2 linked regions of the Homo sapiens genome follow. The protein of the gene in region 1 purifies or fractionates together with the protein of each later gene. This does not show direct contact. Each region holds a gene or a part of one and is shown on either strand. Other genes may lie near its edges. The genes, in order: AHCTF1 and TUBGCP6.

Region 1 (3,809 bases):
TTTCTCCCCTTCCCTTACCAAAAGGTAATTGCAAGGACCATTCCTTCTTCCACCAAACCCTTGCAGGAGAGGTACTGAACTTGAAAGCCTTAGGAATTTCATGGTTTATGCAGCCCCAGCAAAGGGAAGAGGATTGAGTCTAGCCCAAGGGAGCTTATGTAGGTGAATTGTTCTTCAACCTTACGGGGATCGTGCTATTTAGAAAAGTGTGGATAGTTAGGTAATTTGGGGAATACCATTAAAACACAGTTTGGGGGTTGTTTCTGTTTTTTCCGGTTAATTTTTTTTCTTGGGTGAGAATAGAATAAGTCCTTAAATGTTTTCAGAACTGTTAGCATCATAATTTTCAAGCTTTTGTTGACTGTCTTTTTAGCTAGGGAAATGTAGAATTTCTAGTTAAATTTCAGTCATAATCTCAAAATGTAGTTATTTTGACTGAATGAGAAAGTCTGATTGCTTAAAGGGATAATTTTGTAAAGTAAACCCATAAGTATATGCCATATTAAATATAATTTATGTTTTAAAAGGCACACAGCCAAGGGTCATCAAAAACCTGTGTGCTTCAAGTTAAAACATGTATTAAAATTCTTTAACCAGTCTCTTATCTTTAATTCATTTAGGTGATTGAACAAGAAAAGCTTGAAGCTCAAGATTCAGGAGAAGAGGCTAGGAATCTTTCATTTAATGAGTTATATCCCTCTGGAACACTTAAGCTTCAGTACAATTTTGATACTATTGACCAACAGTTTTGTGACTTAGCTGATAACAAAGACACTGCTGAATGTGACATTGCTGAAGTAGATGGGGAACTTTTTGTGGCTCAAAGCAACTTTACCTTGATATTGGAAGGTGAAGAAGGAGAAGTTGAGCCAGGTGATTTTGCATCATCTGATGTGTTACCTAAAGCAGCTAACACAGCAACTGAAGAAAAACTTGTATGCAGTGGGGAAAATGATAATCATGGACAAATTGCAAATTTGCCATCTGCCGTAACTAGTGACCAAAAGTCCCAAAAAGTAGACACTTTACCATATGTGCCTGAACCTATTAAAGTAGCAATTGCAGAAAATTTACTAGATGTAATTAAAGACACAAGAAGTAAAGAAATTACTTCAGATACAATGGAACAGTCCATTCATGAAACAATACCTTTAGTGAGCCAAAACATAATGTGTCCCACTAAATTGGTCAAATCTGCATTTAAGACTGCTCAGGAAACAAGCACAATGACTATGAATGTCAGCCAGGTTGATGACGTGGTTTCCTCCAAAACTCGTACGAGAGGTCAACGTATCCAAAACGTGAATGTCAAATCAGCACAACAGGAAGCATCAGCAGATGTTGCTACTCCTAAGATGCCAGGGCAGTCAGTCAGGAAGAAAACTAGGAAGGCAAAAGAAATTTCTGAAGCTTCTGAAAACATCTATTCTGATGTCAGAGGACTATCTCAGAACCAGCAAATACCTCAAAATTCTGTTACGCCTAGGAGAGGAAGGAGAAAGAAAGAAGTTAATCAGGACATACTAGAAAACACCAGTTCTGTGGAACAAGAATTACAGATCACTACAGGTAGGGAATCAAAAAGATTAAAATCATCTCAGCTGTTGGAACCAGCAGTTGAAGAAACTACTAAAAAAGAAGTTAAGGTTTCATCTGTTACAAAAAGGACTCCTAGAAGAATTAAAAGATCTGTAGAAAATCAGGAAAGTGTTGAAATTATAAATGATCTAAAAGTTAGTACGGTAACAAGTCCTAGCAGAATGATCAGAAAATTGAGAAGTACTAATTTAGATGCTTCTGAAAATACAGGAAATAAGCAAGATGATAAATCCAGTGACAAGCAGCTGCGTATTAAACATGTTAGAAGGGTCAGAGGGAGAGAAGTTAGTCCATCAGATGTGAGAGAAGACTCCAACCTTGAGTCATCTCAGTTGACTGTTCAAGCAGAATTTGATATGTCTGCCATACCTAGAAAACGTGGTAGACCAAGAAAAATCAATCCATCTGAAGATGTAGGATCTAAGGCTGTTAAGGAAGAGAGAAGCCCCAAGAAGAAAGAAGCTCCCAGCATTAGAAGGAGATCTACAAGAAATACCCCAGCTAAAAGTGAAAATGTTGATGTTGGAAAACCAGCTTTAGGAAAATCCATTTTAGTGCCAAACGAGGAACTTTCGATGGTGATGAGCTCTAAGAAAAAACTTACAAAAAAGACTGAAAGTCAAAGCCAAAAACGTTCATTGCACTCAGTATCAGAAGAACGCACAGATGAAATGACACATAAAGAAACAAATGAGCAGGAAGAAAGATTGCTCGCCACAGCTTCCTTCACTAAATCATCCCGCAGCAGCAGGACTCGGTCTAGCAAGGCCATCTTGTTGCCGGACCTTTCTGAACCAAACAATGAGCCTTTATTTTCTCCAGCGTCAGAAGTTCCAAGGAAAGCAAAAGGTACTTTTCTTTCTCTGCAAAACAGTTTTTCATCTCAGTCACTCTTCAGCTTAAAATTTGGTTATTTGTCCTAAAAATGGTTTTATAGGGAATTTTTCCCCTTCCCCCCTCAAACCAAAATTGATCTTTTAGTAGTAAAGTTTAAAGGTTTCATGTTTCAAAGTTTGAGTTCAGTTATTCAGTATGGTTAACATGACTTAAATCCTGTAACTCACGTAACAGATTTATTTTTTAGAATAGTGTAATTTCTCTTCTGTGAGTTTTATAAATTATAAGTGACTTTTAATTAAGTTTCTTCCAAAATAGTCAATATTTTTAATCTCCCATGTACTGCTGCATTTGGCTCACACCCCAGTGATATCCACAACCCGAAATTGTTTTGAAGGGAAACACCAGTAGCTTTTTACTAAGATACAGAAATTATTTCAATCCATATTCACTATTGCCCACAAACTGGCGCATCTACATGCCCTCATCTTCAGTGAGGCCATCCTTCATTGTCACGAGCTAAGGACTGTATTTGGTTGGTGTAGGTCAGAGCTTCTCAACAGGGGTGATCTCTCCCCAAAGGGAGCACATATATGCATTAAGAATACAAACAGATATACAATATATCTGCAGTAATAAAATTTTAATAGGGGGTGCTTTAAACATGTCTAAAAAGTTAAGACACTGGTGTGGCTGAATAGATCCCATCAGAGTAACTCTCTGTAAAAGTGTTAATGGTTAGGTAAACAAAATGTAGGGGGTTTGTGTTGTTTGTTTGAGGTAGAGTCTCACTCTGTCGCCCAGGCTGGAGCACAATGGCATGATCTCGGCTCACTGCAACATGTGCCCCCTGGGTTCAAGGGATTCTCCTACCTCAGCCTCCCTAGTAGCTGGGATTACAGGCCTGGCTAATTTTTTGTATTTGTAGAGACAGCATTTCGCCATGTTGGCCAGGCTGATCTTGAACTCCTGACCTCAAGTGATCCACCCGCCCCAGCCTCCCAAAGTGTTGGGATTACAGGCGTGAGCCACCACACCCAGCCATGTAGTTGACTATTTAAGTTACAGTTTAATATTTGAATTTCAGCAAAGCAGTTCAGGACCTTATAAATAAAGTAGATGACTTGGCCGGTCACGGTGGCTCACGCCTGTAATCCCAGCACTTTGGGAGGCCAAGGCGGGTGGATCACGAGATCAGGAGATCGAGACCATCCTGGCTAACACTACTAAAAAAAATACAAAGAAATTATCCGGGCGTGGTGGCGGGCGCCTGTAGTCCCAGCTACTCGGGAGACTGAGGCAGGAGAATGGTGTGAACCTGGGAGGCAGAGCTTGCAGTGATCCAAGATTGTGCCACTGTATTCCAGCCCGGG
Region 2 (4,139 bases), on another chromosome or scaffold:
CAGGGGACTACGCTTCTGAAATAGCTCCCACCCGGCCACGGTGGAACACCCACGGGCACGTGTCTGACGCCAGCATCAGGGTCGGGGAGAATGTGTCAGATGTGGCTCCCACCCAGCCACGGTGGAACACCCACGGACACGTATCCAATGCCAGCATCAGCTTAGGGGAGTCTGTGTCAGATGTGGCTCCCACTCGGCCACGGTGGAACATCCATGGACATGTGTCCAACGCCAGCATCAGGGTCGGGGAGAATGTGTCAGATGTGGCTCCCACCAGGCCACGGTGGAATACCCACGGGCACGTGTCCAACGCCAGCATCAGGGTTGGGGAGAACGTGTCGGACGTGGCTCCCACCCGGCCACGGTGGAACACCCATGGACACGTGTCCGATGCCAGCATCAGCTTGGGGGAGTCTGTGTCAGACATGGCTCCCGCCCGGCCACGGTGGAACACCCATGGACACGTGTCTGATGCCAGCATCAGCTTGGGGGAGTCTGTGTCAGACATGGCTCCCACCCGGCCACGGTGGAACACCCACGGACATGTGTCTGACACCAGCATCAGGGTTGGGGAGAACGTATCGGACGTGGCTCCCATCCGGTCACGGTGCAACACCCATGGACACGTGTCCGACGCCAGCATCAGCTTGGGGGAGCCTGTGTCGGATGTGGTTTCCACCCGGCCACGGTGGAACACCCATGTACCCATCCCTCCGCCCCACATGGTGCTGGGGGCTCTCTCACCAGAAGCTGAGCCCAACACACCCAGGCCCCAACAGAGCCCCCCTGGCCACACGTCCCAGTCAGCGCTCAGCCTGGGAGCACAGAGCACTGTGCTGGACTGTGGGCCACGGCTGCCTGTAGAAGTGGGGCCATCTCTGTCCTCCCCCAGCTCGGGCTGCGGGGAGGGGAGCATCAGCGTGGGGGAGAACGTGTCAGACGTGGCTCCCACCCAACCATGGTGGCCCAACACCCCGGGAGACAGTGTCTCTGAAGAACTAGGTCAGAGTAGGGTGGCTGGTGGTCAGGAGTGGGACTGTGGGACGCACAGAGCCTGGGAGGTAGGCGGGCAGTGGGGTTGGTGGCATGTGAAGTTCCCCTCAGGCCTCCTTGTCAGCCAGGACCTGGGCTGCTGTGGGGGACATGGGAGGGGCTGCTTGAGCCAGGGCCGGCTCGGCTCTGTACCCGCCACAGGCACTCGGCCCTGATGCCCTCGTGTCCACTTGTGTCCACACAGGCCCTGGGAGGAGCGGGGACACTGAGGACCTCTCTCCAAATTGGCCTCTCAACTCACAGGTTAGGTGGATGCAGCCTGGGGGTCCCACAGCAGGCAGGGAGGGCTCTGTCCCTCTAGGTTGTCACGCGGGTGGGTCCCACATGCGATTTTCCTTTTTTTGGCACAAGCTGGTTGTGGGGACAGCGTGCAGTGGGGAGGTGGTTCTGAGGCTGGTGTTTTGTTAGGAAGACACAGCTGCCCAGAGCAGCCCAGGCCGTGGTGAGGAGGCGGAGGCATCGGCGGCGGAGGCTCAGGGTGGGGAGCAGGCCTACCTGGCAGGCCTGGCAGGGCAGTACCACTTGGAGCGGTACCCGGACAGTTACGAGTCCATGTGTGAGTGCAGCAGTTGCTGTTGGCAGGGAGCCCTGGGCTGGCTGGTTCCCAGCACGTGCTCCACCTCCTGTGGGTTGGGGCGGAGCCCTGGGCTAGCCAGTTCCCAGCACGTGCTCCATCTCCTGTGGATGGGGGCGGAGCCCTGGGCTGGCCGGTTCCCAGCACGTGCGTGCTCCATCTCCCGCAGCCGAGCCGCCCATTGCTCATCTTTTGCGCCCCGTGCTTCCCCGGGCCTTCGCCTTCCCCGTGGACCCCCAGGTCCAGTCTGCCGCTGATGAGACTGCTGTGCAGCTGAGCGAGTTGCTGACGCTGCCCGTGCTCATGAAGCGCTCCATCACGGCACCGCTGGCCGCCCAGTGAGTGCCCCTGCCCCTGCGCCAGTCTGCCCACCCAGCCCGTCCTGGCCCGCCCTGACTCCAGCTCCCTCCTGCCAGCATCTCCTTGGTGAACAAGGCCGCTGTCGACTACTTCTTCGTGGAGCTGCACCTGGAGGCGCACTATGAGGCACTGCGGCACTTCCTGCTGATGGAGGACGGCGAGTTCGCCCAGTCCCTCAGCGACCTGCTCTTTGAGAAGGTGGCCTCCGGACACGGGGTGGGGCCAGTGGTAGAGGGGAGGCCGTGGGAAAAGAGAGACTGGCTGCACGCCCACAGCCCCCTGCTGCTCTGGCACAGCCCCATGGGGTGCCGGCGAGTGCCAGGCATGTGCTTGGGACTCCTGGGGACGGTGGTCCCTTTTCTGCCTAGCTTGGAGCTGGGCAAACGCCCGGAGAGCTGCTCAACCCGCTGGTGCTGAACTCTGTGCTGAGCAAGGCCCTGCAGTGCAGCCTGCATGGGGACACCCCGCACGCCTCCAACCTCTCCCTCGCTCTCAAGTACCTGCCCGAGGTGTTTGCCCCCAACGCCCCGGATGTGCTGAGCTGCCTGGAGCTCAGGTACAAGGTCAGCAGCAGCCCTGGCCGCGGGGGATGGGACAGGGGCCTGCCTGCCTGTGGGATGCCTGCTGAGCCACGCCTCCTGGCAGGTGGACTGGCCTCTCAACATTGTCATCACCGAGGGCTGCGTGAGCAAGTACAGCGGCGTCTTCTCCTTCCTGCTGCAGCTGAAGCTCATGATGTGGGCGCTCAAGGACGTCTGCTTCCACCTCAAGCGCACAGGTGAGGCCCCGCTGGAGCCCGGCGCCCCGCACCCCTGGCTGGAGGCTGCGCTCACCTCTGCCCTCTGCCTTCTGCCCTCCGCCAGCCCTGCTGAGCCACATGGCCGGCTCTGTGCAGTTCCGTCAGCTGCAGCTGTTCAAGCACGAGATGCAGCATTTCGTGAAGGTCATCCAGGGCTACATCGCCAACCAGATCCTGCACGTCACCTGGTGCGAGTTCAGGGCCAGGTTGGCCACCGTGGGCGACCTGGAGGAGATCCAGCGTGCGCACGCAGAGTACCTGCACAAGGCCGTCTTCAGGTGAGGCCTGGGCAGCGGCTGCGTCCCTGTGGTCACGGCTCAGCCCACCCAGCAGCACTGCTTCCCCCCAGGGGCCTGCTCACGGAGAAGGCGGCGCCCGTCATGAACGTCATCCACAGCATCTTCAGCCTCGTGCTCAAGTTCCGCAGCCAGCTCATCTCCCAGGCCTGGGGGCCCCCTGGGGGCCCGCGGGGTGCAGAGCACCCCAACTTTGCACTCATGCAGCAGTCCTACAACACCTTCAAGTACTACTCCCACTTTCTCTTCAAAGGTGAGGCCCACCCTGGCTGGGAGGGCTGCGGGGGGGCCAGGGCGGGGCTCACACTGTGGGCAAAAGCCTGAGCTGCTCGCTGGTCCCCAGTGGTGACCAAGCTGGTGAACCGCGGCTACCAGCCCCACCTGGAGGACTTTCTGCTGCGCATCAACTTCAACAACTACTACCAGGACGCCTGAGGCTGCTCTGCGGGGGACGTGCACAATAAAGGTGTTCTCGGACCCTGTCTGCAGCTCTCTCTCCTGGGTGGGGGCTGAGGACAGGGCAGGGTGGGGGAACAATGACCACAGAGACAGACTCGAGGGAGTTGCTGGTTTATTTAGGAGCCTGGGTCCAGCCCCCAGGGACCAGGCTGCACTGCTGAGCCGGCCTCAGACAGAGACGGGTCAGGTCCTGACTGGATGTCTCTGCCATCATGGAAAGACGGGTGTGCATGGGCCAGGGCAGAATCCCCCAGTGTATAGGGCAGCCTGGCATCATCTTGGCCACTCAGCAGCACATGGGGGCCTCGGGAGACTCCAGGGGTGTGGAGCGTGCCGAGGCCGTTACGAAGATCATGTCACGCACAGTTCTGCTGCCCAGAGCGGGGGCTTACTGCTGTAGGAGCGCTGCCTGCCGTCCGCCCCGTCGGCTTCCGTGGCCTCGGCGTCTGTGGCGGCCCCCGCCTCGCAGTGGTAAGGGGTCTCCAGTAGTTTCAGCACCCGCCGCACCTGGAGGATCAGGAGGGTGAGAGGGGTCTGGGGCCGACCCCCCTCCCAGGGACCACAGGGACAGGCGTGTGCTTGCCTCTGAGAAGTCCCC

Evidence for each region.
Region 2: the proteins of AHCTF1 (region 1) and TUBGCP6 purify together in Homo sapiens (affinity purification with western blotting, with the first as the bait; one study listed by BioGRID). This does not show direct contact.

What each region holds. Positions count from the first base shown.
Region 1 is NC_000001.11:246,848,254-246,852,062, reverse strand, and holds part of AHCTF1 (protein ELYS), read left to right. Parts: intron 1-24; coding exon of another isoform or gene 25-78; exon of another isoform or gene 79-158; intron 159-620; coding exon 621-2,448; intron 2,449-3,809. UniProt on the Homo sapiens protein: Required for the assembly of a functional nuclear pore complex (NPC) on the surface of chromosomes as nuclei form at the end of mitosis. May initiate NPC assembly by binding to chromatin and recruiting the Nup107-160 subcomplex of the NPC.
Region 2 is NC_000022.11:50,217,114-50,221,252, reverse strand, and holds the end of TUBGCP6 (gamma-tubulin complex component 6), read left to right. Parts: coding exon 1-1,002; exon of another isoform or gene 1,003-1,061; intron 1,062-1,237; coding exon 1,238-1,296; intron 1,297-1,461; coding exon 1,462-1,609; intron 1,610-1,796; coding exon 1,797-1,965; intron 1,966-2,043; coding exon 2,044-2,185; intron 2,186-2,355; coding exon 2,356-2,550; intron 2,551-2,632; coding exon 2,633-2,765; intron 2,766-2,850; coding exon 2,851-3,064; intron 3,065-3,135; coding exon 3,136-3,335; intron 3,336-3,425; coding exon 3,426-3,517; 3' UTR 3,518-3,559; downstream 3,560-4,139. UniProt on the Homo sapiens protein: Component of the gamma-tubulin ring complex (gTuRC) which mediates microtubule nucleation.